Linked DNA regions of Homo sapiens. The protein of the gene in region 2 purifies or fractionates together with the protein of the main gene of each other region. This does not show direct contact. Each region holds a gene or a part of one and is shown on either strand. Other genes may lie near its edges. The genes, in order: GOLGA3 and SPATA6L.

Region 1 (3,818 bases), on a different chromosome or scaffold from region 2:
CAGCCTGCTGGGTAAAGGCCTGGGTTGGACCAGTGACAATTCTATACCCACGTGTTACCTCAGTTCACCCACTAAAATGATTATATACAAATTACCCACAACACAAACTAAAACATATTTCCTCATCAAATGGAACAAAGAAAGATTTCTTTCAATGAAGTGATTTTCAGTCTTTTCCCTGCCCCCTAACTGCTGACTGGTGGGTGGGCCAGTTCACAGTCAAAGAACCAAGACATGTGAGGGGGGAGGGAGGGTCCTCAGGGGGTTCTGGTCCTGGTTCCGGTGGCTCTGGAGGCCCGGCAACACCTCCGTGTCTCACAGGGGTCAGCATTCCTCGGATCCCACGTGCATGCAGGACAGCAAATTTGCTTTTTGCTCAAGCAAATTAAAAATGAGTTTCTTAGCCGGGCGCGGTGGCTCACGCCTGTAATCCCAGCACTTTGGGAAGCTGAGGCAGGTGGATCACGAGGTCAGGAGATCGAGACTATCCTGGCTAACACGGCGAAACCCCGTCTCTACTAAAAATACAAAGACTTAGCTGGGCGTGGTGGCGGGCGCCTATAGTCCCAGCTACTTGGGAGGCTGAGGCAGAAGAATGGCGTGAACCCTCGAAGTGGAGCTTGCAGTAAGCTGAGGTCGTGCCACTGCACTCCAGTCTGGGCAACAGAGCGAGACTCCGTCTCAAAAAAAGAAAAGGTTTCTTTCACTTGCAAATGTGAGTTCAAACTAACAGCAGATACTTACTGTCATGCCTCCCGAAAGAAAAACCAGAATAAAAGCAGGGGTGCCAGACAGGAAGCCAGACCACGGGCACCCGACCAACGCACTGAGACGCCTTTCATGCAAAGGACCCGTGAGCTCCACTGCTGGGAGAGGGGGAACCTTGCATTTCAGATAAAAGTTACTGGGTTAGGCCGGGCGCAGTGGCTCACACCTGTAATCCCAGCACTTTGGGAGGCCGAGGTGGAAGGATAACTCAAGGCCAGGAATTCAAGACCAGCCCGGGCAACAGCAAGACTGTTTATACAAAAAGTTTTTAAAATGAGCCAGGCAACAGGGCGCGGTGGCTCACGCCTGCAATCCCAGCACTTTGGGAGGCCAAGGTGGGGGGATCACCAGAGATTGGGAGTTCAAAACCAGCCTGATCAACATGGAAACTCCATCTCTACTAAAAATACAAAATTAGCTGGGCGTGGTGGCACATGCCTGTAATCCCAGCTACTCAGGAGGCTGAGGCAGAAGATCGCTTGAACCCGGGAGGCGGAGGTTGCCATGAGCCGAGATCGCACCATTGCACTACAGCCTGGACAACAACAGCAAAACTCCGTCTCAAAAAAAAAAAAATCAGCTAGGCGTGCTGACACGCATCGATAGTCACCGCTACCCCAGAGACCAAGGCAGGAGGATCACTTAAGCCCAGGAGTTCATGGCTGCCGTGAGCTATGATTACACCACTGCACTTCAGCCTGCTCAATGGAGCAACACCCTGACTCTAAAAACAGTAATAAAATGTTTAAAATAGAAAAAGGGGCGGAGGCTGAGATTAACCCAGCGTCTTGCTCGAGGGCACATTGCTCCTGAGCAGCAGATCTAAGAGCAGGTTCCACGGCCGCGGGTCTCAGAACTCTTGATCTTGGGCCTCTAAGTTGTTATCTGCCTCACCTGATGCTTATGTAGCAAGGACCAGCAAAGCCATCCTAAGCGCCTGAGTATCATTTTACAGGAATTAGACTGTGACTTCTGCTAGTAAATTAGCACATCTGTAGTCTACAGTTTTAAAGCACTGAACCTCCTGGCCAGGAAGAGGCATGAGAACTGAGTGAATAACTAAGTCACCCTTTCCCTCTGACACGTGAATAACCCAGGGGGCTAACATAACACTGTGCTCCGTAATCCTTAGATCTCTACGGGACGACTTCTGAATTCTAGCTATTACAAATTCAGCAACTGACCAATCAAAAAGGCAGAATTCGGCCAGGCACAGTGGCTCACTCCTGTAATCCCAGCACTTTTTGGGGCTGAGGTGGGTGGATCATTTGAGATCAGGAGTTCGAGACCAGCCTGGCCAACATGGTGAAACCCCGTCTCTACTAAAAATACAAAAAATAGCTGGGTGTGGTGGCAGGTGCCTGTAGTCCCAGCTACTCGGGAGGCTGAAGCAGGAGAATCGCTTGAACCCAGGAGGCAGAGGTTGCAGTGAGCTGAGATGGTGCCACTGCACTCCAGCCTGGGCGACAGAACAGGACACCGTCTCAAAAAAAAAAAAAAAAAAAAAAAATGGCTGGGCGCAGTGGCTCACGCCTGTAATCTCAGCACTTTGGGATGCCAAGGTGGGCGGATCACCTGAGGTTGGGAGTTCGTGGCCAGCCTGACCAACATGGAGAAACCTCATCTCTACTAAAAATACAAAAAATAGCTGGGCGTGGTAGCGCATGCCTGTAATCCCAGCTACTCGGGAGGCTGAGGCAGAAGAATTGCTTGAACCCGGGAAGTGGAGGTTGCAGTGAAACGAGATCTCGCCATTGCACTCCAGCCCGGGCACCCAGAGCAAAACTCCACGTCGAAAAAAAAAAAAGGTAGAATTTTAGGCAGGGAACATGATAAAGACCCATAGATCCCTTCAGGGAAACACTGCTGCTGCCCCACACGTTTAATGGAGTTCTGTTTAGCAGGAATGTGCCTGATCTAAAGGTGGCATCATTCAGTTACTAAAACATACTTTGGGCCGGGCACAGTGGCTCACACCTGTAATCCCAGCACTTTGAGGCTGAGGCTGAGGCGGGCGGATCACGAAGTCAGGAGATCGAGACCATCTTGGCTAACACGGTGAAACCCCGTCTCTACTAAAAATACAAAAAATTAGCCGGGCGCGGTGGCGGGCGCCTGTAATCCCAGCTACTCAGGAGGCTGGGGCAAGAGAATGGCATGAACCCGGGAGGCGGAGCTTGCAGCGAGCCGAGATCACGCCACTGCAGTCCAGCCTGGGCGAAAGAGCGAGACTCCGTCTCAAAAAAAAAAAAAAAAAAAAACAACTTTGAATTAAGTGAAAAGCTCACAGTGGTCTCAACGCCACATCCTCCCTCAACACCACGTCCTCCCTCAACACCAGGTCCTCCTGTGACCAGCACACAGAGGAACCTCACGACTTACACTGGACTTTGTCCTGCTGGTCAGGTGGCACCAGTGGGCCCGGGGGCTTCAGTGGGGCCTCGGGGAGAGACGAGGGGCCACTGTGGGATCTGTCCTCCTGGAGGCCATCTTGCTCGGCCGACGCGCCGTCCATGGTCAGGACGACACCAGCTGAGCTGACGCTGAGGGGCTACAAGTGAACCTTGGACAAGCTTGGCTTCTGCCATCAGCAACAGCCAAGAGCTCCTGGGAGGGGCCCTACTGTGTCTCCCATTTTCAGGAGAAGATCTGATGACTCACAAATGACTTGATGTCAAACCAGCTAATATCATGATACCTGACAGGAGAGAGAGACAAAATGTATTATGAAACTTGTCAGATTTCAAGTATCAATTACAAAATTAGCATTTGGTTCCCAATTTGCATACGTACAAGAAACAAATACAAACTTTTTCATTCAGCAAATAATCCTGGAGCACCCACAACATCCTAGGTTTTGAGGCTAAGATGCTGACCCAGCCACACTGGGCCCTTTCCTGAAGGAGCTTAATGTCTGTATCGGTGCCAACTAAAGAACATTCTGCTGGGACAGCGCAGCTCTGAATCTGTGGAGTAGGTGTCACACAGGGCAACTGAGCTTTAAATTTTATTTAAAATTAATTTGGGCCAGGCGCGGTGGCTCACCCCTG
Region 2 (3,818 bases):
GCGACAGCGCAAGACTCTGTCTCAAAAAAAAAAAAAAAAAAAAATGTAAAGAGACTAAGAGAACTAGTGTGACTAAATTTGCCTACCACTACCTGAGGACAAAATCTAAGATGACTTTAATTAAGGGCTTTGAGTATCGCACAACATTGCTTCTTCCTACAAATAAAACTTTTCTGGCTCTTCAATATATGGCCACTAAGCACCAATCTCATTAATAAAACTCATGTAGTTTTCTTTAAAACTGATGAAGCTTTAGTTTTGGATTGATATAGAGTGTGTGCCAACCTTCATTATGCATTTGCAACCTCTGTCAGTTCATTGACTCTTCAAGATAATGGCAAGTTATCATGTGTAGGCATTATACTCTGTTAATAATTTTCAAAAATTAAAAATAGGGATGGCTGACATTTACTGAGCAAGTCCCCTGTATAAGGTACCTTTCTAGGGGTTTCCTGACAACGATCTAGGAAATGAACATAATTTAATCACAATTATTATTCAATTTGAAGTACCTTTTTATTGAATATTATTCATTTGTTGTTATAACTCAACCTTCCTTTCTTCCACCCTCATCCATATCCTCACTATTGCAAAATGCTCTAAAAAATAATTTTAGGCTCACGTGTCTAACAACAAATGGAGGCTTGCTTCCTCCAGAGATTTTGAAATTATTTCCAAGGTTCAACTGAGCTGGCTGGTCCTGGAAGAAATGCCTGGTAGAATATTGAGAGGGCGCCCGGGCTTGCATGCCTTTGGGCAGTCTGTTGAGATTATTCTCCTTTAGTTTCATCTTTATAGTATTTAAGGGAAATATTGGTTCATGTGATGTAGATAAAGGCCTCCGTGACTCATGTCTTTCTTCCTGAAATAAACAAAAAAAGAATATTTTTTAAAATAAAGAAAGAAAAGAAGAAAATTCAATCAGAATATAACTGTATTTAATTGAATTTTTAAAAATTAAGGTCAAAGATAACACACCTCAGATTTATAAAACATAAACTTAAGAAGGACATTTCTCTAATTTTTTTCCTGTTCAGTTTAACATCAGTAGTATTTATAACTTGCTAGTATAATGTATTCAACTAATTAACAGTGAGATTTATTTATAATAGGGGGAAGTTAGAAAGTGTCAGACACCTCCAATAGATAGATAATAGAGAATTTGACACATAGAGGGGTCTAGCAATTTCACTTCCAGGAATGTATTATAAGGAAATAACTATGGCTATATGTATAGCTACAAAAATGCTTATGATAGTTTAAAAGTTAGAAACCAGCTGTATTGGTGAGTAAGCAATTGCGCTCAGTTGCAAATCCACCTCAGCTATATAATACTGGTCCAGGGACTCTACAAACTCCCTTTTTTGCTTTTCCACCTGGTCTCTGTAGGCTCTGCCACTGGAAGGTGCTAGAGAAAGTGCAAGGCTGGAGGAGACACAGTGACTGGCTACTTCCAGTTTTGCATTCTATTCCTGTTAGCATCATTCCTGCAACCATTCTTCGCCTTAACAGCTGCAAATGGCTCCAGATTATAGCCTTTCCCCTATTATGCCAGGACTAGCCCCATTGCACTCCTCCAGACATATCAGCGGCAGCTGACCAGAGCCCCCTGTTCAGATTTGAGTCTAGACCCACAGGAACCTTCCTCCAAGCTCCTGTGGCACCAGCAGTGAGCAGTGCCCCTCCTTTGAGATCTGAGTTCCAGCTCATCCAAGTCCCACCTTCGAATTCCTGAAGAAGCATCCAGGAAAGCAGCCCTTCTCCAGAGGTCTGGGTCCCATTTCTGTTCAGTTTCTTCTTTAAGCTTCTGTGTTCTTGCTGAACCAACATCTTCCCTTTGTTTCCCCAGCCCTAGGGGTGGAAGCTGCTTCCTGCAGTTACTCTGTCATTTCAGTGTTCCCCTTTTATCTTTCAGTCTTTCTTTCAACCCCTGTTTAGCCATTTTTAAAAATTAAATCTTTCTGTTACAGTCACAAGTTTGGTGTGGTTTCCTGACTGGACCCTGGCTGATATATCAGTTAAGTGCTCAACAAAAGGAAAATGAATGGCCAGACAGATTACAGTACTTCCATACAATGGAATACTATGAAGCCATGAAAAATTGTCTGGCACAAGAGTACCTGAGGACATGAGAAAATGTTTATCATAAATTAAGTAAAAAAAAGAAGGGTACAAAATAATATGCAATGCAGCGTGATCTCAATCTTTTTTAAAAGTGTGATGTGTGTACAGAATATACTAAAAAAATTAATGCTGATCTCTAAATGGCAAGAATGAGACAGTTTTTTTTAAGTTTTGGGTCCTTTTTGCTTATTTATCTTTGTTTTCTAATTTTCTAACATAAAGTGATACTTTTGTTTTAAGGGAAAAAAAAACAGACAGTGTGGTGGCTCATGCCTGTAATCCCAACACGTAGGGAGGCTGAAGCAGAGGATCTCTTGAGGCCAGGAGTTCAAGAAAAAAAACAATAAAACTATTTGTTTAAAAAGTTAACACTGAAAGAAGGACCTAGGAAGTTAAAACAGCATTAAGATGGTAGAATGGAAGAGAAAGAAACACTGAAAAATTGCTATGAACACATCACAAATAAATTGGAGAGAAGAGAGGATAAATAAGGCAAAACTAAAAAGCAGATAATGCCTTCCTTAAAATTAATCATTGGTCTCCCATTATATGAGTTATTTAGCTAAGAGTTTTGATAGATTTGCACAGATTATTGGCCCTTCTTTCTCATTAAGTATTCTGTAACATACAGCCCACATTTTCAAGGTCTTTTCTAGGACCCTACATGAGATCTGGGATAAGCATTTTGTTTCACTTACAGGTTTTACTCTACCCTGTCCCAAAGTATTTGGAGAAGCTTCACAAACTACCTTTATTCCTTCTCCATCTTGTTCTAGAAAGGATTTTAAGTGGCAACAACATTATATGCAATAAGGTAAAAGCAAAACAGAAAGAAATTGGGGTGAGGGAGGCAGACACTAGGACTGAAGAAGCAAGTAAAATTGAGGTAGTACACATGGATGCCCTAAGACGCTTCACGCTTACCAAAGACGGACCATGAATACAATCCGAGCATCAGCCTCAGCAAAAGAAAGGTGGCCCCATGTTTACTGCAGCACTATTCACAATAGCCAAGATTTGGAATCAACCTAAGTGTCCATCAACAGATGAATGGATAAAGAAATTATATTACATACACATAATGGAGTGCTATTCAGCCATTATTTTTTATGTCTTGCAACAACGTGGATGGAAGTTGAGGCCATTATATCAAGTGAAATAAGCCAGGCACAGAAAGACAAACTTTATATATTCTCACTTATTTGTGGGAGCTAAAGATTAAAACAATTGAACTCATGGAGACAGAGAGTAGAATGATGGTTACCAGAGGCTGGGAAGGGTCATGAGAGCTGAGGGGGAGTGGGGATGGTTAAAGGGCACAAAAAAAAAATACAAAGAATGAATAAGATCTAGTATTTGATAGAACAACAGGGTGACTATAGTCGATAATAATTTAACTGTAAATTTTAAAATAACTAAAAGAATATAATTGGATTGTTTGTAACTCAAAAGATAAATGTTTTAGGTGATGGATACACCATTTACCTTGATGTGATTATTACATACTGTATGCCTATATCAAAATATCTCATGTACCCCATAAATATATACAGGTACTACGTACCCATAAAAAATTAAAATTTCTAAATTTTTATTTTATGTTTATTATTTATTTATTTATCATTATTTTTTTCTGAGATGGAGTCTCACTCTTGTCACCCAGGCTGGAGTGCAGTGGAGCCATCTTGGCTCAC

What was found.
Region 1: the proteins of SPATA6L (region 2) and GOLGA3 purify together in Homo sapiens (affinity purification with mass spectrometry; 2 studies listed by BioGRID and IntAct, with this or other methods). This does not show direct contact.

What each region holds. Positions count from the first base shown.
Region 1 is NC_000012.12:132,818,846-132,822,663, forward strand, and holds part of GOLGA3 (golgin subfamily A member 3), read right to left. Parts: intron 3,467-3,818; 5' UTR 3,284-3,466; coding exon 3,151-3,283; intron 1-3,150. UniProt on the Homo sapiens protein: Golgi auto-antigen; probably involved in maintaining Golgi structure.
Region 2 is NC_000009.12:4,624,705-4,628,522, forward strand, and holds part of SPATA6L (spermatogenesis associated 6-like protein), read right to left. Parts: intron 3,153-3,818; exon of another isoform or gene 3,049-3,152; intron 2,356-3,048; exon of another isoform or gene 1,782-2,355; coding exon of another isoform or gene 1,722-1,781; intron 863-1,721; coding exon 623-862; intron 1-622.